Linked DNA regions of Homo sapiens: regions 1 and 3 are each linked to region 2. Evidence: fine-mapped expression QTL. A gene starts in region 2. Each other region holds a variant in brackets. All regions are shown on one strand. Distances are from middle to middle. Region 1 overlaps PHACTR1 (phosphatase and actin regulator 1). Region 2 holds the start of TBC1D7 (TBC1 domain family member 7). Region 3 overlaps PHACTR1 (phosphatase and actin regulator 1).

Region 1 (8,275 bases), 85 kb after region 2:
CAAATTTGGTGGGTGAGGGAGAAAGAGCACTATATGCAATGGAAATTATAGACTGGAAATGCCAACTTCACCACTGAAACAAAGAACAGATAATTCTTAATAAGTATACATGATTAGAGTTTCACTTATCATTTGAAAGAATCACAAGAATAGGCCAACTCTAAATTAAGGTACCAGCAAAAGAATTTTCCAGAGTACCTGCCTAGTTTTCAAAATGATTAATGAGACTTTGCTCAGCTGTAATGAACCATCAGCCATCCAGGTAGGGAAACATCTTTCGCTCGCACATTTAATTTCAGTGTTCTTTTGGCTAAGTGGGATCAAGGAAGATCATGGTGGCCGTGAAAGAATGTATCTGTGGGAGAATTCAAGGATTCCTTTTACATGGGCCTTTTGATAACTGAATATGTTTTTTAAAGATTTCATTCAAAACCTCCACATTATTTATTTTTCTTTTGAGAAAATCAACGAAGATATATGAGTTGTTATGGTTGCTAACTAACAACTGGCCTGTTTATTCCAGTAAAACATGATCTATTTCTCTCTCTTTTTTGAGAGATATTAATTTTAAGCACCGACTGGGTCAGAGGACTTTATTTTAAATCCTAGTTTGTCAGAAATTACTGTGTGAACTTGGCTAGTAGTGTAGCCTCTATCAGCCATTTACCTGTAAAATTAAGGCTAGATGCAGTGATAGTAAATGTCCATTTAAGTTCTAAAATGTTCTATTACACTCTGAGATCCTAATGATACAGTTGTGAAGTGGGTGAAGAAACTCACCAAAGAACTGGGATAACTGGCTAGCTATATGCAGGGGATTGAAACTGGACCTGCTCCTTACACCATATACAAAAATCAACTCGAGATAGATTAAAAGACTTAAAACCTAAAACTATAAAAACCCTGGAAGATAACCTAGGAAATACCATTCTGAACACAAGACCTGGCAAAGATTTCATGAAGATGCCAAAAGCAATTGCAACGAAAAAAAAAATTGACAAATGGCACCTAATTAAACCAAAGAGCTTCTGTACAGCAAAAGAAACTGTCAACAGAGTAAACAGACAAGCTACAGAATGGGAGAAAATATTTGCAAACTATACGTCCAACAAAGGTCTAATATCCAGCATCTATAAGAAACTTAAATTTACAAGCAAAAAACAAACAACCCCATTAAAAAGGACATGAACAGACACTTTACAAAAACAGAAATCCATGTGGCCAACAAACATGAAAAAATGCTCAACATCATTAATTATTAGAGAAATGCAAATCAAAACCACATATCATCTCACACCAGTCAGAATGTCTATTATTAAAAAGTCAAAAAATAATAGATGCTGGCAAGGTTGTGGGGAAAAGAGAATGCTTACATGCTACTGGTGGGATTGTAAACAGCCATTGTGGAAAGCAGTTGCTATTTCTCAAAGAACTTAAAACAGAATTACCCGTCGACCTTGCAATCCCGTTACTGGGTATATACCCAAAGGAACAGAAATCATTCTACCATAAAGACACATGCACATGTGTGTTCATCACAGCACTATTCACTGCCCACAGTGAAGACATGGAATCAACCTAAATACTGTTGCGGGAAGTCAGGGACCCCAAACAGAGGGACCGGCTGAAACCATGGCAGAAGAACATGGATAGTGAAGATTTTACGGACATTTATTAGTTCCCCAAATTAATACTTTTGTAATTTCTTATGCCTGTCTTTACTCAATCTCTAAACATAAATTGTAAAGATTTCATGGACACTTATCACTTCCCCAATCAATACCCTTGTGATTTCCTATGCCTGTCTTTACTTTAATCTCTTAATCCTGTCAGCTGAGGAGGATGTATGTCGCCTCAGGACTATGTGATAATTGCATTAACTGCACAAATTGTACAGCATGTGTGTTTGAGCAATATGAAATGTGGGCACCTTGAAAAAAGAACAGGATAACAGCAATTGTTCAGGGAATAAGAGAGAGAAACTTAAACTCTGACTGCCGGTGAGCCGGGCAGAACAGAGCCATATTTCTCTTCCTTCAAAAGCAAATGGGAGAAATATCGCTGAATTCTTTTTCTCAGCAGGGGATATCCCTGAGAAAGAGAATGTGCAGCTAGGGTTAGGTCTCTGAACTTGAACTGGCCCCCCGGGGCGTACCTGTCTCTTATGGTTGAGACTGCAGGGGTGAAATAAACTTGTCTCCCATAGCGCTCCCAGGCTTATTAGGAAGAGGAAATTCTCACCTAATAAATTTTGGTCACACTGGTTGATCTCAAAACCCTGTCTCCTGATAAGATGTTTTATCAATGACAATGGTGCCCGAAACTTCATTAGCAATTTTAATTTCGCCTGGCAGCTGTGGTCCTGTGATCTCGCCCTGCCTCCACTTGCCTTGTGATATTCTATTACCCTGTTAAGTACTTGATGTCTGTCACCGACACCTATTCGCGCACTCCCTCCCCTTTTGAAAACCCCTAATAAAAACTTGCTGGTTTTTGTGGCTTGTGGGGCATCATGGATCCTACCAACGTGTGATGTCTCCCCCGGACGCCCAGCTTTAAAATTTCTCTCTTTTGTACTCTGTCCCTTTATTTCTCAAGCCAGCCGATGCTTAGGGAAACTAGAAAAGAACCTACGTGATTATCGGGGCAGGTCCCCTGAAAAAATACCCATCAATGGCAGACTGGATAAAGAAAATGTGGTACATATACACCATGGAATACTATGCAGCCATAAAAAAGAATGAGATCATGTTCTTTGCAGTAACACTGATGGAGCTGGAGGCCATCATCCTTAGCAAACTAACACAGGAACAGAAAACCAAATACCACATGTTCTCACTTACAAGTAGGATCTAAACACTGAGTACACAAAGACACAAAAAAGGAAGCAACAGGCACTGGGGCCTGCATGAGGGTGGAGGGTAGGAGCAGGTTGAGGATCAAAAAACTACCAAACTACCTATCAGGTACTATGCTTATTACCTGGGTGACAAAATAATTTGTAAACCAAACCCCCACTATATGGAATTTATCTCTATAATAAACCTGTACGTGTACCCTTGAACCTAAGGTTTTTTTTTTCTTTTAAAAGAAACTCATTAAAGAGTTTCCAACAAGTCATAGGCCCAAGGTCCACACAGTGACAAAAATCTCTGAGCCAGTCTGAAAGGCCTAGATGAGATATTTGAATATTCCCTGCAGTAAAATCACCTTTTAACCAAGGTTTAGGCCATTATTTGGATGCTTCATAAAATGATTTAAATCAGAGTTTATTCATTGCCTCCTGGTAAGTTCACAAGTGACTGAGAAATCCTTTCATGGTAAAATTATGAGAGAAATGACACATCTTTGTGGCTGTTTTAAGCTCATAAGTGGTTATAAGGTTGTAGAAAAGAAAAAAAGAACATCTCGCAAAAAAAAAAAAAAAAGTGGTCTGACAACTCAAGTTGAAGTTGTTCACATTAATGCACAAGTTTAAGAGGAAAAAAACCTCAGAATCAGATGTTCAGATTATTCAGTGTTTACATGATCAGAGCCCTGACTCATTCCCATTCTTTTGGGGGATATTTTAAAGGAAAAAAAAATGGCAAGAGAAATAATCTAAAATACATTCACACCCATAAAAGAATTTGCTACAGAGAGATCTGCGCCTTCTTCATGGAACTTGCTGTGTCTTTTCCAGTTGAAAGCAGAAAACAGTAAGCATACTTTGACTCACTCATCTAAACCTTCTGAGAAGCATAATTATCTAGCTACCTTTTAAATAACACCCATTACAGAGCTGTGCACACAGTTGGTGCTTAATCAATAGTTTCCAACTGAATCAACTGGCTGAAGCTGAGGTTCCCATGTTCTCCCTTAGTAACTTGTTTCCCTGGAAATTTAACCTTAAACTCATATAAAACAAACTCACTCGAGCTCAAAGTCCACTGTTCCTTTTTGTGATTTCTCAGTTGTAGTTAAGCTAGTTTTTCCTTTAAAGCAAAAGCAATGTTGATTTTTTTGAGTCTGTTTTCTCAAATTGAGATCATTTTGATTTCCATAAGTTGCTTTACTAAACTTAGCCTTAGGTGCAAATTCATTGATATAGACCATGGGCATTAGTGACCTCCATGTACTCGCCCCAAGACAGACCCCTCTGGCAATCCAGGTGATATGCTCCATTCAGATGTACCTGGTGCCCCTGAATTCCAACTGCTAATTGTGGAAAGTCTTTTAATCAAGTCTCTTATAGCTGTGACAGTCCCTTTACACAAGTGCAAGAATCATGACCTAAAGACCTGTGTGGCAACTGTAGGCTCAGTGGAATTGTGGAAAAGGTCCTTTACGCTCATCCAACACTGCGTGTGCTTCTCTATGTTTTCCACACTCCCTTGAAGTGAGATTGGGTTCTGATGAATGGACTGTGAGCAGAAGTGATGTGTGTGCCTCCTCTGCCTGCTCTTCCCTTGCTATTGAGATTGGAGTCATGTGTTCTAGAAGCATGTAATGGCTATCTGACGGATCAAGGCTACCAGATCCACATTAGGCTTAACTCCAGTGAGAAATAAACCTTTGCTGCTTTAGGTGACTGGGATTTAGGATTTTCCTGTTAGGGCAACTAGCATTACTTATTCCTTTTTTTTTTTTTTTTTTTTGAGACAGAATCTCACTCTGTTGCCCAGACCGGAGGAGTGCAGTGGTGCAAACTCAGCTCATTGCAACCTCCATCTCCTGGGTTCAAGCGATTCTCCTGCCTCAGCTTCCCAAGTAGCTGGGACTACAGGCCTGTGCCACCACACCTGGCTAGGTTTTTTTTTTTTT[G/TG]CATTTTTAGTAGAGATGGGGTTTTACCTTGTTGGCCAGGCTGGTCTTGAACTCCTGATATCAAGTGATCCACCTGCCCCGGCCTCCCAAAATGCTGGGATTACAGGTGTGAGCCACTGCGCCCACCCAGCATTACTTTTTCTAATAAGAGTCGAGCATGATACAGTATTCAGACTCACCAGGAGAGGGAAGGAACTAGCATTCATTATCTACTACAGTTGAAAGTCTTACTCATTTGGTGCTCTGGATGACCTTGTGTGGGAGGTCCGTTTTACAGATGTGGAAACTAAGGCTTGACAGGGGCCCAGCTAGTAAGTGGTGAAGAGCTTTCAAGCTCAGGTCCAGCTCCAAAGTCTTTGATTTCTCTTCTTACTAGCCCATTGCTTCTCAAACTTTAGTGTGCATCAGAATCATGCTGGTTAAAATGCAGATTCCTGCACGCCACCTCCCACCCGGCCCAAGAATTTCTGATTCTGGGTCTGGGGTGGGGCCTGAGAATATGCATTTTCAACAAATTCCCAGGGGATGCTGATGCCATTAGCCCAAGGGCCACACCAGGAGAACCACTGCATTGGACCTCTGTTCCCCACATTGCAACAGGCACAGGTATTACTGAAATGCAATAAAAAAGCCCAGTTAAGCCCGAGATAGAAGAACATCTCCTTTCCTCTTCTTCATTCCATGCCTTATCTCTCCCTTGAGTACATTTGCACATAGCTTGACCCACTGCCACTGTGGAACTCTACAGTCCACCAAGATACCTACCAAACCACAGGTCCTTGGGAGGGAAGCTCTGTTCAACATAAAAACTCAACCAAACTACACATTTTTTCCAGTGGGTTTGCCAGAAATAGGAAAACCCTGGATTTAGAAGATGTGCTTCTCTTTGCCCTTTATCATCTCTGAGATCATTGGTTCAGTTTCCTCATCTACAGAATGGGATTCCCAGTAGCGGCCACCTTGCAGGGTTGCATGGAGATTATTAGATGAGGTGCTGATGGGGAAACACTTTATCTACAGCAACAGGCTTTAAAGTTATAAATGGCACGTATCAGGGACCTTCGCCCTGAGAGGTCTTTAAATGTAGATGGATTGATTCTTCTTTCACTTAGCCAAATATCCTGGCTGGGTACAGTGGTTCATGCCCGTAATCCCAGCTCTTTAGGAGGCTGAGGTGGGCGGATCACTTGAGTCCAGGAGTTTGAGACCAGCCCAACCAACAGGTCAAAACCCCATTTCTACTAAAAATACAAAAATTAGCCAGGTGTGGTGGCACACTCCTGTAGTCCCAGCTACTTGGGAGGCTGAGGCACGACAATCACTTGAACCTGGGGCGGGTGGAGGTTGCAGTGAGCCAAGATTGCGCCACTGCACTCCAGCCTGGGCAACAAAGTCAGACTCCATCTCAAAACAAAACAAAACAAAACAAAAAAACAACAACAAAAAAAAACCCACAACGAATATCCTAAGAAACACAGCCTTTCTTCTGCCTTCTGCTTAGATTAACAAACAAGAACAATCATTACAGATTAGGGGAAAATCACCTGAGAACAAAAAGTTGCTGTGAGTAATAAACAGCCCAGTCTTTGAAGCTTCCTCTTCATCTACCCTAAGAAGAGCCTCTTAAAATGTGACCATGCAGCCCAGAAGATTCATCCATTCCCTGCTTAGTCTGCAGTTGAGTATAGCTGTGCTCTCCCCACCCCCTGCACCCAAAATTTGAAATGCTGCTGGAATAATCAGTTGTTTAAAAAAGCTATGAAATATAAAACAAAGTAAGACTCACAACCTCCAAGAATGGCCACTTTTTTTTTTTTTTAAAGAAACTTTGCAAGTTTAAACACTAAGATCGATTGTGTTCCCACTGGGTAAAAGGCAGCTCTTTGTCCACCACACTTACTGTATCACTGAAAAATGTACAGACTGCCGGGGCAGCCGCAAGTCACAGATGCAGAGAACTAACGGTGCTCTCCAAGATGTGGCTCTGCTCCTCAACATGCGGTACTGGGCTTGCAGACGGGGCCTCCTCTCCTCCTGACACACAGGCATGGACATACACACAGAGTCGAGGCTCAGAAACTCTGTCCTAGCAACAGGATGTCAAGAGTTCAGTCTTTGCTGTAGCTCTTAACAGCTAGAGGCTGGGTAAGAGGGCAAGAGGCCATGCAGATCCCTGCAAGGGCTCTGAGACATGTTCAATGGCTGTAGGTCCCTGTGATGGCTGTGACCCATGGCTCAATGCCAGAACCTCTACATGTGTGGTTTTGAAGTTTTATTCTACCTCCTTCCAATGCGTCTTGCTCAAGTCTTCTTATCCAGACAGCTTTCTCACCTTCCATTGATTTTTTTTTTAAATAAGCCCCAGCGAACATGTGGTTTCTTTAACTTTCTATCAAACAGGTAGTGCTATAGCCTGAGCTCATCTGAGCACCTTTCAGAAGATGTCAGCATTCCCAAAGAGCTCTCAAAAAGGATTTTCTATTGCGTGCAGTGAGTTCATAAAAGATGTCAAATTACCTGAAAGCAGCTTAGCTACACGAAGTCCACGCATTTGTGGTACAAATGTTGTAGAACTCAATAAATACATTCAAGTTATGCTCACCCTGACCTGACTTGCTCCCAACACACAATTTCAGTTTGGTGACTGGCGTCTTCCTTCAGTTTTATGGGAGGTCTCAGAATCCTCCCAGTTTTATGGGAAGTCTCCCTGGCCTGAGCCACCCCCACCCAGGCTTTGTGGATCTGAAGATGAGCGAATACCAGGGCGGTCTTTCCGTTTCTCTCCTGTGCCCCCTAAGCTGTGCCCCACTCCCTGCTCCTCCACAGCTGAGATGAAGATGAGGATGAGGAGGAGGATGATGATGGTGATGATAATGGCGCACAACCTCAAGGGCTAGGCCTACAAGCATGGCCTCTAAAACTTCACTCCAGTCTATTTTCCTTCCTTTTTTCTTTGGAGTGGTAATTCACAGTGACACGTATCCAGGGACACTAAGTAAGTCCAAGTTGAATTGACATCATAGAGCCTTTTATTGTTATTCCTATTTTTAGAAAGTGTTTCTGCAGCAGAAGAAATTACCTAGCCAGGGGAGATGCCAGCTCACACTCAGCATTAGTCCTTAGATTCCTGGGGAGACACTATTTGGCACTTTGGAGCTAGGTGTCGGTGTGTCAGACTCACCGCACCAATTTTCCCCAACCATAAACACTACCCAAACTACATTTAGAAGTCAAGATTACTGTATTTTATTGCCTGTGCTACAAGCATAAAAAATGGATTTCAATTTTCTCTCTTGAACACCGTACCATGATTTAAAGCAGCGCATAATCCTTGGTACATATTATTTCATATTCTGCTTATAGCAACAATGGTGTAGACTACTTAGGAGTATAAAATACAGATTTAGGATACTTTTTCTATCTAGCATATTATGAAATTCTAAATAAGACAGAGTAACATACTAGGTTTCAT
Region 2 (8,000 bases):
GGCAGAAATATTACAAGAAAGGAGTGATGCCTGTTACAGTGAAGTACACCTGTGAGTTTTACAAGTCTTATTTCAATTAAATTCCACAAAATTTTATTGCCTGACAACTCCATTCTATAATCTGTGTTATGCTAAGAGTCCAGTGACTAATAATGCTGACAGTTCACAACTCAAATATGCAACTGTAAGAACGAATGGCCACCTGTTCACATTGTGTGATAGCCCTTTTCATTTGTTTAGAAGTCTATATTAAGCACTTACTGTGTGCCAGGCGCTGTTCTATGGACTCAGGATACATCAGCTACCGAAGCAAAGATCCCTAACCTTGTGAAACTGACGTTCTGGTGGGAGGACAGATCCAATAAAAACTAAAATAAATAAGTCAGTAATGTAGTGTGTTAAAAAGTGATCGGTGCTGGCCGGGCGCTGTGGCTCAGGCCTGTAATCCCAGCACTTTGGGAGGCCGAGGCGGGTGGATCACTTGAGGTCAGGAGTTTGAGACCAGCCTGGCCGACATGGTGAAACCCCATCTCTATTAAAAATACAAAAAATTAGCTGGGCGCAGTGGCGGGGGCCTGTAATCCCAGCTACTACAGAGGCTGAGGCAGGAGAATCGCTTGAACCCGGGAGGTGAAGGTTACAGTGAGCCAAGGTCGCACCATTGCACTCCAGCCTGGGCAACAAGAGCAAAACTGTCTCAAAAAAAAAAAAAAAAAAAAAATGGGATCATTGCTGTGAAAGAAGGAAAAGGTAGAACTGCATACAGGGGATTGGGATTCAGGTAAAGTGTTGCAATTTTAGGTAGGGTGGGGAAAGTAGCCTCAGGGAGGGGACATTTGATTGAGACTGAGGTAAGTGAGTGGGCCATGTGGCTAGCAGAGGATAATGTGTTTCAGGCAGAGGGAACATGAGAAGGTCCCAAGGCAGGGGAGTCACTCATAGTAGCTGAGACTGAGGTACAAGGAGGTAGACCATGAGAAGTGTTGTAAGCTGTTGTGAGCACTTCAGTTTTTCCTTTGAGAGAAATGGGGAGCCACTGAAGGATTTTTTGCAGAGGGATATTTTTAGATTCATTCTGGCTGCAGAGTTGACAAAAGTCTCAAAGTGTTATCTCTTAGGGAAGCTTCCACATATTCTGTTATCAGCTCATCAAAAAACAGAATGGAGGGCAGTTGAAGGCACCCATATTGCTGTCACCATTCAGTGAACAGCAGTCTTGAAAATTGATTGTATGAATTGGAGTAATCTTCATACCCAGCTAAATTAGAGTCCAGAGATGAGGGAGAAGAGAAAGCAGTTGGGGCACAAAGTGCCTGCCCAGGAATTATATTGAAAGCCAGCTGCCAAGGTGACCTGCTATAACCTGAAGACCAGTTTCACCCAGTAGCTGCTGAAACGAATTGCTGTAACTCTAAGACTAGTTTTACTTACCACCTTCTCTCACAAATTAGAGCTTGCCTGTTCCTAAAAACTTTGCTTAGGGTCAATGAGCTATCTTTCAAGGTAATACATAACATTTCTCTAATGAAACCTCCAACCATCTCTTTGTTGTTCTGAAGACCACCCCAGTCTGTGTGTATGCCCTGAACTGCAATTCTGTTTTCCCAAATAAAATGATTTAGAGACTCATCTTTGCATTTTTAATTGATCTTGACACAGCCAATTCACATATATCCCTACTGTGCCACATGCCAGGCACCATGCCAAGCACTTTACATACTTTCTCATTTAACCCTTCCCACCTTCTATATAATCACCATTGGTGATGATTTTATTTTATTATTAATATTTTTTGAAATGGAATTTCTCTCGTTGCCCAGGCTGGAGTGCGGCGGCACCATCTCAGCTCACTGCAACCTCTGCCTTCCGGGTTCAAGCGATTCTCCTGCCTCAGCCTCCAGAGTAGCTGGGATTACAGGTGTGTGCCATCACACCCAGCTAATTTTGTATTTTTACTAGAGACAGGGTTTCACCATGTTGGCCAGGCTGGTCTCGAACTCCTGACCTCAGGTGATCCGCCTGCCTCGGCTTCCCAAAGTGTTGGGATCATAGGCATGAGCCACGGCGCCCAGCCAGCACCGATCACTTTTTAACACACTACATCATTGACTTATTTATTTTAGTTTTTATTGGATCTGTCCTCCCACCAGAATGTCAGTTTCACAAGGTTAGGGATCTTTGCTTCGGTAGCTGATGTATCCTGAGTCCATAGAACAGCGCCTGCACACAGTAAGTGCCCAGCCCTGGTGATGATTTTAAAGACAAGAAAAGGCAATTATAAAAGTTAGTGACCGGCCCAAGGTTTAGATGAAGTAAATGGAACTTGTGTAAGGTAACTTGAAGAACTCTGCTTACTCATGTGAACACTACCCAAGGAAGGTTTAGTACCCCAGTACTGAGGAACTAAAGATGGTGGTGGTAAGGGAGTGGGGAGGGGCATCAGTGTTTGAGTTCAACCACCACACGTTTCTTCATTTTTAAGTTCTGTCTAGCCATTATACACACATTTGTCTGCACTATAACTGGACTTCTGCACTGTTGATAGTCCTAAGTTTCCTTCAAAGCTTGGCATCCGTGTGGCTTATTTGGTAGAGATTTGAACTTTCAAAGGGACGATACCCATCATTGGGGATTTCTCTCAAACCCTGGCGGTTTAAAAACCTACTTGGGCACTGCTGCTCAGCCAGCCCGAGGACCAGGGAGGCAAGCACAGAAATAGAAAGCATTTGTAAGTGTTAGTAGCTACTTTAAAGAGTAACTCTGTTCTGTTAGACCTACTAATAACAAATTAGGAGCTTGCATTTAGCACATCTTTTTTTAAAAAAAAAACACGTTCATTTTTCTCCTATGTTATAGTGTTTTACCTGAGAGGCTGAATATACTAAGACAATGGCCAAATCTAATATAAAAATAGACCTCCAATCCACAACCTGCAGCAACCTGCCCAGAAAACCAGTCAGTTACCTACAATAACCAACCCAGGGAGCCTGCCTGCTCTAAATCAGACTTGCACTCCTCTGCCTGCCTTTTTTCTTCTCATTCGGATGGTCTTCATCTATTCCCACATACCTGGGGTGGGGAGGAAATTAGCAAAAGCAAAACCCGGGTCCTGCACGCAGGCAGCTTAAGTACGGCCCTAGGGCTCGGGTCTTCCCTAGGCAAGAACCTCGAGGGCCGGACACGGGAGTGCAACCCAGGCACGCGCCTTCGGATGGCCAGAGTAAATGGTCGCGAGATTTTGCGGGGTAGCAAGGGGCCGGGTGCCCACGGCGGGAGAAACTACACTACTCTGGAGGCGAGCCTAGCCCTTCATCCCGTCGGGTTTCACAAACGAAGCCAGAGCTTCCTGGAGTGAGGGTGGAGCTTCCTGCCCGCGCCCTCTGCGCATGCGCCCGCCCGGCGCCCGCCCGGCGACCTGGAGTTGATGTCACGTCCGGCGGCGGCGGCAGCGGCAGCGGCAGCGGCGCTGAGTTTTGTCTCCCGGGCCGTCTGGGCGCGCGCGGGTGTCCCAGGTACCCCGCCGCCTCCCTCCTTCCCGCAGGACTCGTCCCTCCTGGCCCTGGGCCCCAACGGTGCCCGCCTGCCCGGCGGTCGGTCAGCGCACAGGGCACGGCTTCCTCTGCTTCTCCCGGACCACTTAGTCTCAACCCGGGTGTGTTTGCACTACTAGAGGTGAAGCATCCATCATAGAGAGAATGGGACCTGGGGTCTTGGACCAGGGTGTTTTTACTTTTCCCATCAGGTGGACGCGCATGGGCAGGAGATATTATTTGCAGCATTTCCTCCTAGAGGACGCCTTTGTCATTGTAGTGCAATCTAAGAATGGGTGTCCTTAGACAACAGGGACCGACCAAATCGTCATGCAGCTGTTTGGATGCTTTAAAAAAATAAATCCCCACACTCATTACGCGTTTTATGCTGCTGACTTTTTTATTTTTAAGACATCTGCTCCCGAAAGCTCAGAGCCCTTTAGCATTTCATTTTCTAAACGAATCCTAATCTTTCCTGTGACTGAATCGGTTCAGAGGATATCTTTTCAATAAGGAAGGAAGCCCTCCCCTGCTCACTGGGGACGTCGCAGGGTTTTTAAACCTAAAGATTTACTCTTTTGTGCACAGACGCTGGAAGCATTTGGGTGAGGCAGTGCAGTGCTTTTTGGGAAATGCATCAGATCTTTTCTGTTCTTGAAACGCCAAATCTAACTTGGTCTTTTTTTGGATGAATTACCGCCAGTATTATGAAGGTTACTGTGAAGGAACTTGAGACCACTGAACTTTTTGAGTTCTTGCGGTAGATTTTAAATCGTTTTTCCGTCTTCAACTCTGACTTTGGGATCACTGTCAATTGGCTACATTCTTTACCCTCTTCTAGTTATAATTTAATGCGATTTATTTGTTGTGGGTTTTGAATTTCGATAGCTACACTTAATAGAATTGTGTTTAAAAGAAAGATAAGTGAGGAACTCGTGGCTTTTTACTTTTATATAACTTAATTTTTCATTTTACAAAATGCCCATTTAAAAAAAAGTAGCTAAGCAAAAGAAAGGAAATTAAAATCATCTAGAATCCTACTATCTAAAGATAACCATTGCTAACATTTTGGAATAGAGTGTTAAGTTTTAAAATACATGAAATTTGTAAAAAACAAAAAATGAAATCATAGTGTATACTGTTTGAGTATAATTTGCTTGACGTATCTTGCCTGGCTTCCATTTCACTTATTTTTTTTCTTTGCGCATTTATAATAGCTACAGAATGTTCTATTGTGCTAGGCACTCATAGGTATAGTGGGAAACCTAGTGCATAAACCTTGTGCCATCTATTTTATCAGCTCAGAGAACTTTTAACTTATATCTTGGTTTTTAGCCAAGATGCATAGGTGAGATAGTTGCAGAACTGAGTTAAAGGAAAAATTTAATATTGGGTCCTATGCAAGGGTACATCATATTGAAAAGGTGGAGAACATCATTGAAAATTATTCTAATTCTTGACTCTTTGTTTCTAGACTCACTTTTCCCCTTCGTCTTTCTCTCCCTTTCTGTCTTTCTGTGTCTCCTCCAAGAATGAAATATGACTGAGGACTCTCAGAGAAACTTTCGTTCAGTATATTATGAGAAAGTGGGGTTTCGTGGAGTTGAAGAAAAGAAATCATTAGAAATTCTCCTAAAAGATGACCGTCTGGGTGAGTACTTTTAAAAATTAATCTCATTGGTTCTCAATCACTCCACATGTTCTGAAGTAAATATTTTCTTAAAAGACATCCAGAAGCATTGGTTACTTGCTGTATTTTTTAGTGATGTGGTGAAGCAGAATGGTGTATTTTGAGAAAAGATTTTTCAAATTTATATTTCACTGAGCGTCAGAAGTTTTTGAAAGGTTTCTTAAGAAAGTCAGTAGTATTTTTTTCTTTTATTGAACCCATATGTTTTCATGTATTATCTAGGTAAATTTGCTTCTGGGTAAATTTGCGATAACTCTGGTCATGATTTTCTTTTTTTTTTTTTTTGAGACCAAGTCTGACTCTGTTGCCCAGGCTGTAGTGCAGTGGTGTGATCTTGGCTCACAGCAACCTACACTTCCTGGGTTCAAGTGATTCTCCTGCCTCAGCCTCCCAGGTAGCTGGAATTACAGGCATGTGCCACCATGCCTGGCTATTTTTTGTATTTTTAGTAGAGACAGGATTTCACCATGTTGGCCAGGCTGGTCTCAAATTCCTGACCTCAAGTGATCCACCCACCTCGGCCTCCCAAAGTGCTGGGATTACAGGCAGGAGTCACCATGCCCAGCCCATGATTTTCTTTTATGGAAATACTAAGAGTGCATTGTATATTGACATTTTAGTTTGAGCCAGTCTGAATAAGGTCTGTTGTTGACTAAAGTAAAATAAACTGAACCGTAGTTAAAGATAATACTTTATTTGCATAGAGTACTTTTAAAGTTTCTGAAACATTTCTCACCTTATCTTTGATCTTCAATTGTGCGGTCTTTGCTTTAGTATGTCTGGTATTCTCCTTTGATAAGTAGAGGAATTGAGGGTCAGGGAAGTCACTGTAATTTATTGGAAAATGTAGGGATTTGAAGGCAGACTGTACCACTTAATAGCTATGTTAGTTTGATCAAGTCATTTAACTGCTTTGAACTTCAGTTTCTGCATTTTTAGAACAAGAACTACCTAACAGGCTTGCAGTGTGAATTAAATAAACCCTGTGATTAATAACTACCACTGTTATAGGGAATGTAGTAATATATGCAAAATGCATCTCCAATGCTGTAAAATGCAAATTGTTTTTATTTTTATTATTATTTTTAACACAGAGTCTCACTCTTGCCCAGGCTGCAGTGCAGTGGCACGATCTTGGCTCACTGCAACCTCTGCCTCCTGGGTTCAGGCGATCCTTCTGTCTCAGCCTCTTGACTAGCTGGGATCACAGGTGTGTGCCACCATACCCAGCCAATTTTTGTATTTTTAGTAGAGATGGTGTTTTGCCATGTTGGCCAGGCTGGTCCCAAACTCCTGACCTCTAGTGATTTGCCTGCCTCAGCCTCCCAAAGTTCTGGGATTACAGGCATGAGCCACCGTGCCTGGCCGCAAATTGTTTTTAAATAACTTAGTTGGCAGAAGTCTTGGGCTAGAAATCAGACTAGTATTGCCTCTCCTAAACTTACTGACCATATGGTAGACTTCCCCTGAAGAAATGTCTTAACTATTCTTTGAGTTTTAAAAAATGAAATGTGCCTTGACATACTGTGATCAGCATGAAAAGCTTCTAACAATTGTTTTCTTCTTCCTCTAGATACTGAGAAACTTTGTACTTTTAGTCAGAGGTTCCCTCTCCCGTCCATGTACCGTGCATTGGTATGGAAGGTGCTTCTAGGTATGAGACCCAGGAGTTGGAAGATTTATCTTAAAAAATATTGAATGAAGGGATCATTTGCTATCTTATCAGTCAGAAAAAGGAGAATTTGTTTAGGCCTTTTACTGAATATTGGATCTTCCCCAGGAGGTTCAATTACCACTCATTATTTTCTGTTCTATTAATGATACTATAGAAGAGAAAATAGTTTATGTTCCTGAGACAAGATCTGGGAAGAGCATTGGAGTAGGAGAAATGAGAATTGGTTTAGGCTTTGCTATCAGCTGGGTAACCTGGAGGAAGGCGACCCCTCTGGGACTCATTTTTTGCATCTATAAACTGAAGCTTTTGAGCTAAATTACTCCTAGTTTTTAGCTCTAAATTTGTAAGATTTTGTGATTCTCAGCTATAGAGGTATAACTTCCTAATCTGTCAAAGAGGAATTGGAGACTTACTACTCCCTAGAAGTGTGAATGACTAAATTCCAGTGGTGCGAGTGGCTGAGTGAGAAGGAAAACTGATCTTACTTAGTTTCTATGGAAGAAAATGTGAATTAAGTGCCATGAGTAACTGGCAGCATCCCTTTTGAGCCCAAGATTTTCTTTCCCCTATCATTGCTGAGCCTGCTGGAGCATATAATTCCTATCCATTACCATCCTCCTTTTCTTTCTTAAAAAAAGTATTTTTGGCTGGGCGCGGTGGCTCACACCTGGAATCCCAGCACTTTGGGAGGCCAAGGCGGGCAGATCACGCAGTCAGGAGATTGAGACCATCCTGGCCAACAAGGGTGAAACCCCCTCTCTACTAAAAATACAAAAAATCAGCTGGGCATGGTGGCATGCGCCTGTAGTCCCAGCTACCTGGAAGGCTGAGGAAGGAGAATCGCTTGAACCCGGGAGGCAGAGGTTGCAGTGAGACGAGATGGCACCACTGCACTCCAGCCTGGGCGACAGAGCGAGACTCCGTCTCCAAAAAAAAAAACAAAAAACAAACAAAAAAAAACTTACAGTTTGTTCACTGTAAGATAGTGGCGAGTACTAAATTCCCTGAAGAATATAAACTATGATTGCTCCTTATTGGGCATCCCTGTATGCCTGTCAGTAGGCTGAGTAGTTTACATAGATTATACAGAGTAATCCTAGAATCC
Region 3 (8,275 bases), 120 kb after region 2:
TTCTTTTCTTGCTTTTTTTTTTTTCAGGGGAAAGCGCAAGCACAGTCCCCCACTACCACAAATTATGCAGTCGAGTTTCCCACATTTGGGAAAATCGCAGGGGTCAGCATATCCGGAGTGCGATGGATAAGCCTCGCCCTGGGAAAACCACCTTCGTGATCATGGTATCTCCACTGCCAGGTAAGTATGCAAAAGCCTGTTTCTATAATTGAGACAGTTTGTAACAAAACATTGATCATAAAAGTAAGATATTTTTCTATTTCAAAGATTAGAGTAACTTTTAATGAAACCCACTCCATAAATAGTTTCAGAATACTTCCTACATGACAGGTACTATGGCAGATTGTGGCCCATTTGTGCTGCTATAATAAAATACCCAAGACTGGGTAATTTAAGAAGAACAGAAATGTATTTCCTCACAGTTGTCGGGGCTGGAAAGTCCAAGATCAAGGCGCTGGCAGGTTTGGCTGTCTGGTGAGGGCTGCAGCCTCTGGCTGGGAGAAACGCGGCACGCTCACATGGTGGAAGGCCAAGAGGGCTTTATGCTGCTGTGTGAAGTCCAGTTCACAAGGGTCTTAATGTCGTTCATGAGGGAGGAGCCCTCATGGCCTAATCACCTTTTCAAAGCCCCACTTGTTAATACTAAGACATTGGCCATTAAGTTTCAACTCCTGAATTTTGGAGGAGAGACACTCAAACCATAGCAAATGGGGAGACAAGGATGGTTCCCATCCACATTAAAGAGAGAATATACAGAGAAACACATAACCTGTTGCAAGTATGCAAAAGGGGTGTGTGCAGGAGGGCAGAGCTCTGTATGGGAATCTGAGAAGGGATCACAGAGGACCTGGTATTTTAATGTCTTGAAGAACAAGAATTTTTCTTTGTGAAAGAAGCTGCTCTGGGTGGTAGAGGACAGGATGTAAGAGAGTGCATTCCAAACAGAGGGAACAGTTCAAATTGTTAGAATAAAGAAAATATAAAAGGTTAAAGACCACTAATACTGCTTAATATTTATATAACATATGCCTTGTGAGAACTCAATCCATCAATAGGAAGCAGATTAATAAGTGAAAGAATATCACTGCAGCTATGAGAGGCTCTCCATTCATTCAGTTATTCTTTCACTCACTCACTCACTCACTCACTCACTCAAACCTATAAGCCAGGCCCTGTTGTAGGCACTCTGGATACAGCCATGAACAAAACAGTTCCTGCCCTTGTGGACTGTATGTTCTATTAGGTGAGAAGAGCAACAAACCGAATGAAAGGCAAATGACACAAAACGTTAGATGGTGAAAAATGCTTTGATAGGAATAAAAGGAGCTGGGGAACAGGCTGTGTTGCGAGGAGGGTTGCAATATTGAACGGGAAGGGCCTCATTGAGGATGTGACATTTGAGTAGAGACCCGAGGCAGGTGAGTGTAGGAGCCCTGAGGATATTTGAGGGAAGGGCAGTCCGTCCAGGGGAACAGCCAGTGCCAAGGCCCCGTCAGGAGGTGTCCGGCACGTCCGAGAATGTCCGAGAATGTGCGAGAATGGTGGGAAGGCCGCTGTGTGAGGGAGGAGGGAGCAACAGAGAGGGGAGCTGATGAAGCGAGGGAGACCACAGGGGCAGTCCGTTAATACTCAGGTTTCAACCCTGAATTTTGGAGAAGAGACGCTCAAACCATAGCAGATGAGGAGACAAGGATGGTTCCTGTCCACATTAAAGACAGAATATAGAGAGAAACACATAACCTGATGCAAGTATGCAAAAGGGGTGTGTGCAGGAGGGCAGAGATCTGTACCAGAATCTGAGAAGGGGTCACAGAGGACCTGGTATTTTAATAATGTCTTGAAGAGTAAGTAGATTTTTCTTTGCAAAAGAACTTGGAGTGGGTGTGGGCTTCTGGGCCATGGGGAGGATTTTGCTTTTTACTCTTAGTGAGTTGGACAGCGACAGAAGCATTTTGGGCACAGACATTGTTAAGAGCTGAGCAGTGTCCCCAGATAAATTCATATGTTGAAGTCCTAAGTCCCAGTGCCTCAGAATGTGACTGTATTTGGAAGTAGGGTCTTTAAAGAGGTGAGGGAGTTACAATGATGTCAGTGGTGTGGGCCCTAATCCACTATCACTGGTGTCCTTATAAGCAGAGATGAGGAACAACCACACACAGAGGGAAGACCACGTGAGGACACAGAGAGAAGACACCACCTACAAGCCAAGAAGAGAGTCCCCAGGAGAAACCAACCCTGTTGGCACCTTGATCTCGGACTTCTAGCGTCCAGAACTGAAAGACAATAAATTTCTGTCATCTAAGTCACGCATTGTGTGTGTGTGTGTGTTTTTAAATGGCAGTCCTTGCAGACAAAGACAGTCACGATCTGACTTTCCTCAAACCCTGTCTCTTTTGCTGTTGTAGTGGGGATGGGCTGCAGAGCAGGTGTGGACACAGAAGAACAGGTGGGAGAAACTGCAGTAAGCCAGGCAAGGCCGACTGAGGCTCAGGCAGGAGAAGAAGGAGCATGTAGAAGTGTTGGTCTTATCCCTGTGTATGTACAGTGTGGACCAGACAGGATTTGCGGACAGTCAGATGTGGGGAACCAGAGAAAGGAAGGGGTCAAGGGTGACTCCAGGTCTTTGGCATGAGCGACTGAAAGTGTGAAGTTGCCTTTAATTGAGAAGGGAAAGACTTCTTTAAAGTGCATTCCATTAAGAATCTTCCTAAAATTCCTTCAGGGTCCACATGGATCCACATTCCACCTTCATTTTACTAATAGGAGACTGGAACACAGAGATCAGCCGAATTAAGATCAGAAAGAAACGGCGTCCTGATTAGGACTTTACATCTGACTTCTAGGATTGATGCCAACTAGATCACGGAGCTTACTGCAGATATTAAAAATAAAAACACTGCATCATCTTTGAAATGATAACAAAGGCATAAAAATGATATAATGGACTTTGGGGACTCAGGGGGAGGGGTGGGAGGCTGGTGAGGGATAAAAGACTACACACTGGGTACAGTGTACACTGCTCGGGTGATGGGTGCACCCAAACCTCAGAAATCACCACTAAAGAACTTATCCATGTAACCAAAAACCACCTGTTTCCCAAAAACGATTGAAATAAAAATAAAAATAAACAAATAAAAAGTTGTTCCACAACAGGGTCACTAAATAATCATGAATTCAACTCTTTAATGACTTTAAGAAAAGCTTGTTTCTTAAGAACAAGAGTAAAGGCTAGCAAAGATTTAAGTACAAAAATGGGGAAAAAATGCAGTGTTATTTATTAGAATGGAAAGTTGAGGGGAAATCTCAATGCAAAAAAAAAAAAAAAAAAAAAAGAAATGATAAACCATCATCTTCCAAAAGATGTGGCTCACCAGGGTGAGGGGAATGAAGATAATCTAATTTGAGGAAACTTACCCAAACAAACAGACTTACCCAAACCATTCTAGGGTCACTGAAGACAAATTTTCCATGCTGGCTAATGTTCAATACCATTTGCTTACTGTGTGACATGCAATAACCCCACTGATTTGGATTCATTAAATAATCTGATCCTTACAAATGACCCTAATGAGGCTGCTGGCATTATGATTATTTTTATTTTACAGATAAGGCATGAAAATCAAAAAGAGGTTGAGCCATACGCTTTGGGTCACACAGCTAATACGTGGTGTGTCTAAGACTCAAACTCCGGCAGTTAATTCTGGAACCCACACACTTTGTCCTGAAGTAGGGGTGTGTGATGCCACCAGCTCGGACCCCACTGCCTAGGGCAACCCTGTGATTTTGAATAAATATGACCCTTTAAATTTGCTTCAAGTGGATTCTAGCTCCTTCCCCCAAATCTTGTGAGCCAAAGCTGTAAATAACCACGCCATTGTTTAGTGCCATCAAGCAGGCTTAGGCAAGGTAGTGTCTAAGAACTTCTCTGCAGGTGTGTGCCATGGCTTACACCTGTAATGCCAGAAATTTGGGAGGCTGAGGCAGGATGATCACTTTAGACTATGAGTTCGATGCCAGTTTGGGCAACATGGCAAAACCCCATCTCTACAAAAACTATAATAAAAAAAAATTAACTGGGCATGGTGGCGTGCACCCGTGATCCCAGCTACTCAGGAGGCTGAGGTGGGAGAATTGCTTGAGCCTGGAAGGTCGAGACCGCAGAGAGACATGATCATGCCACTGCACTACAGCCTGGGTGCCAGAGTGAGATGCTGTCTCAAAAATAAAAAATATAAATAAAAAGTAACTTCTCCATATAAATCAGAGCAGATTTGGTATAATCTCAGGGGAACACGAACAAGATGGTATAAGATCTAGAGAAGTCCTTAAATGAAGGGAATGGTAGCTATCTTCAAAGATTTAAAAGCCTTTTACAGGAAAGGAAGATTAGAAATAAGATCGGGAAGGGGCAGATACAAATTTCAGTAAGTAAAACTTTTAATAGAGAGGGAACTTTCTAACAGTCAGACCTTCTTGACAATGAAGCAGGCTATGTTGGGACCTGGGGAACGTCCTGTTGGAGCAGAGACCAGAGGATAAATGGTCAGGAACACTGCTGTGAGCAGGGGCTTGGTGGCCTGGATGGTCTTCAAGGCCCCTTTCATTGATAAGATGACTTGTGCAAATGTATGGTCCAGTGTCAGGCATTGATGC[T/C]GTTTAATTCACCATTCAACTTTGTATATTACCTATAACTTTTTCATCAGGATCAGACTGTCCATCTGGACCGATGGCCTATGGTGTGACATTCTTTGAGATTTCAGGGGGCAGCAATGGCCCAAACAGGGGGTCGGTCCAAGGAACTTTAAAGGCAGGATGCCTGAGTGTTTGGTAATGCCTCTCCCTTCTTGCAGAGTTTTTTGGGGTCACTGGAAATTGCCAGGAGGATAGAGAAATGATTCTTTCTTTCTGTATAAAACTTGGTTAGAACAAGAATGAAATCATGTTGACAGGCAACAGGGAGAATTTTTAGGCAGTAAAAATCAGGGGGAAATCACCCAAGACAGCTGGTGATTCCCTCCCTACACTGAAAAGTGTGGCCTGTGACCTTGGCCTATTTTGAGATTCTTCCTGGAGATGACTGGAGACACACAGAAAAATCTCTCCAATCTTTGTTTGGGAAGAGGGCCTCTGGGATGGTCTTTGTTTGGGAAGAGGGCCTCTCTTTCTCTGGGGTGGCAATCTTGTCAAACTGATGCATGCATTAATCTCTGCAGCCTGGTTGGTCTGTTAGGACAACCCTATGCTTTGACCTCGAGTGGGAAGTGAGGGAGAAAGAAGGAGGAAATGACTCTGAGTTGGGACAAAGCGCAGAGACTGCCTTGGCTCTGCTGCCGAGATCATGCTGCATACCCTGCCCCCACCAAAATTCCCTTATCCGACTAGATCTACCCATTGGTCTAAATTAAACTGAAATATCCCGCAAATACCCACAGATATTATAAAACTTGTCAGTTAGCATCTTTAATTGAACCTTTTAATATGGTGTTTTTTTTAAGTGGAAGCATATTTAGCAATATACTATTAACATGCTATCCAAGTATCTTTTCTGATGATTGACGCTCATGAGAGATATGAAAACTTAGTGGGTGCATGTAGACATGGGGTTGGGGGGGTGGGCAGCAATGACGTTGGCTGCTACATGTCCTTAGGAAGCAGCTGTGTGTTAGTACAAAGATCTCTGGACTTGGAGAGGGAAGACCCAGGCTGGAGGCTTAGCCTCTCAACTTACTACCTAGGGTAGTGTTTTCCAAACATCTACAGGGAAGAAACAGTTCTTACTGTTTAGTTCTTTCCATTTTCGATCCATCACAAACTGATGCTTTTGTAAAATATAATACAAATGTAAAAATAATGAAGCCCTTTTTAATGACAAGATTCAACAGACATGAAATTATTCTGTCATATTGCTGTAAGAGTATCTAAAACTTGTTCTCAATGTCTGCACTTACGTGGTTGCAGATGTGAGATAAGCCATTTGTGGGCCACCCTTTGAGAAGGTGGCTTTGGGGAACTTAGTGAACCTCCCTTAGTTTCTCCATCTACTCCGTTTCCGTAGATGATGTGAGGATTAAATAAGATGACAATGACAGTGATGACAATGTGTATGTGTAATAGATTAAAACGTGCCAGCCACATTTTAAATTATTATTGTTCTAATTAATAACAAGAATAGTTGCCAATGACAGCAAGGGGCCAAATTAAGTTTTGTTTTTTTCCTTTTGCAGCAAGGGCAGGTGTTAACACCAAACAATCAAGTCAGAATTCCTAGACACAGCAACCTCCCAGTGAATCACTCCTTTCCCAAATGCAGAATACTCAGCTGACAGGCAGGAGCAGAGAAAGCCACCGAGAGTCAGGAAAACACAACCCGAAGCTCCCGCCTGTGCATCTCGCTTTTAGCTCTCTGGTGATTCGCTGGGACCTCCATACTGCCATTTTCCATCTGTAGGACCCAATGACCAGCAGCCACTACTATGGGACAAGCATTCAGCTCACAGTCAGAGATACCCTTTGCACCTCATAATCATACTTTCTCCTTGTTACACCAGGGCACTCAGTCAAGCAATGTGCCTCAGAGCCCCAGTGGGAAATCCCAGTGCCTTCTTGGATGTGAGGTAGGTGGCGGTGTTTGAATACACACACACACACACACATACACTCATGTGTGTATACACAATCAAGAGTAATTGAGAACCAGTTTGAGAGATCTCCCTATGTGGTGAGGAGTTAGGGTCGTGGCTGCAGGCCTGCCTGTGGGGTCATCTTTGCAGCTCTCCCCGAAGAGCGACTGGAGGCATATTCTGGTGAAAGAGGGAGCTGCCTTGGTAGTGGCCAAATATTAGCCTCACAAGTGCACATAATCAGAGCCTGGGACTCTGCTTCCTCCATCAGCAAGAACAGGGTATACCTTCCCACCTTCCCCAGCCCTCTTGTTTCCCTCCAACACCTGCCAGTCCTCATCTTTTCTTATTTCATATTTTAATTCTTTTGAGTATCATAAAAGTAATATACACAGAATTAAAAAGTACTATAGAAAGATATGAAATATAAAAGTATTTTCTCCCCATTTCACCACACCAGGAATAAATGCTATTAATGACTACGTATACATTTTTCCACAAAACATTAATGCTTATAGAGACACAATATGTGCGTGCATGTGCGTGTGCATGTGTGCATGCATGTGTGTGTGTGTACATGTGTATGTGCGTACACTCACACGTATGCAAAGATGGATATACAGCAGGTCCTTGAATAAGGTCATTTCATTCAATGTCATTTTGCCATAACATTGATGAGAAAAAAAAAACAAACTGATTCCCAGCTGGGGCCATCGTCTGTGTGGAGTCTGCACGTTCTCCCCACGACTGCATGGGTTTTCTCCGTGTACTCAGGTTTCCTCTCACATCCCTAAGATGTATATGTCAGGTGAAATGGCATGTCTACACTGTCCTAGGTCTGAGTGAGTGTGGGTGTGGGTGTGGGTGTAAGTGTGCCCTGTGAGGGGATGATGTCTGACCAGGGCCAGATCTTGCCTTGTGCCTTGGGCTGCTAGGACATGCTCTGGCTAGCCACCACCCGGAACTGGAATAATTGGGTAATCATCTTCTTTGTTTTTATTAACCTTTCTTAAATGTATGTACAGCTCACATTTATTTCAATGTTTAATATTAGAAGTGTTGTGGTCTTTATTTAGAAGTTTGGTGATATTTTTGTGACCAGAAATATGCTATAGGAACTTAAGTCTTGTTTATATCAATTAGTCTATGGTTAAGTTGGTTTTGTTAGATTTTATTTTACTGAAGTTGCAATTTTCACGAACCTACTAATGACACTGAGGACTGTGTGTATATATAAGCATATACATATATACATGAATGTTAGTTTTTCTTTCCGATAAATGTGATTATTCCAGAGCTTTTCAATTGGCAACATTTTTTTTTTCCATGCTTTGACCTTCAGTTTTTTGTCTCATTTTACTTTCAAACATTTTCCCCCAGTGGGGATGACCCCTTGTTCACATTCCTAAGTCATGGTCCAAATCCCTAGGCCCCCCTCCCCAGCCAACCCCTCTCCTCCCGTCCTCCCTCCTGGTGCCCACCTTTACCTTTCCAGCCTCTGCATGGTCATGGCCAGCGTTTTGTTGAGCTCGTCTATCATTCTGCAGCCCGAGGGGTGCATGGGGAGGGAGCCGGTGGTGGAGGGGAGGTGCTGGCCGTGGCTGCCGTACTGCAGCTGGTGCTGGATCTGGGAGGGCAGGACAGTGTGGTGGTGC

What was found. PIP is the estimated chance that this variant, and not a neighbour inherited with it, causes the effect.
Region 1: its variant is fine-mapped to the expression of TBC1D7 in neutrophils (BLUEPRINT, PIP 0.95).
Region 3: its variant is fine-mapped to the expression of TBC1D7 in whole blood (INTERVAL, PIP 0.97).

The regions. Positions count from the first base shown.
Region 1 is chr6:13,238,398-13,246,672 of GRCh38, reverse strand. The region is part of intron 10 of PHACTR1 (phosphatase and actin regulator 1); the gene reads right to left. Among named protein-coding and RNA genes, the nearest start is that of TBC1D7, 86 kb to the left of the region's middle. The variant G/TG (reference allele first, on the strand shown) is at 4,804.
Region 2 is chr6:13,323,968-13,331,967 of GRCh38, reverse strand. It overlaps TBC1D7 (TBC1 domain family member 7), which reads left to right and starts at 3,431. Exons shown (of 8, transcript NM_016495.6): 1 at 3,431-3,672; 2 at 5,062-5,181; 3 at 6,794-6,874. The coding sequence starts at 5,070. TBC1D7-LOC100130357 (TBC1D7-LOC100130357 readthrough) reads left to right here and starts at 3,431. Exons shown (of 9, transcript NM_001318809.2): 1 at 3,431-3,512; 2 at 5,062-5,181; 3 at 6,794-6,874. The coding sequence starts at 5,070. LOC124901261 (a long non-coding RNA gene) reads right to left here and starts at 3,353. Exons shown (of 2, transcript XR_007059457.1): 1 at 3,070-3,353; 2 at 2,111-2,243. RefSeq lists an enhancer at 3,086-3,592 and a silencer at 3,226-3,615.
Region 3 is chr6:13,205,969-13,214,243 of GRCh38, reverse strand. It overlaps PHACTR1 (phosphatase and actin regulator 1), which reads right to left. Exons shown (of 15, transcript NM_030948.6): 8 at 8,108-8,275. It also overlaps the pseudogene RNU1-11P. Among named protein-coding and RNA genes, the nearest start is that of TBC1D7, 120 kb to the left of the region's middle. The variant T/C (reference allele first, on the strand shown) is at 4,654.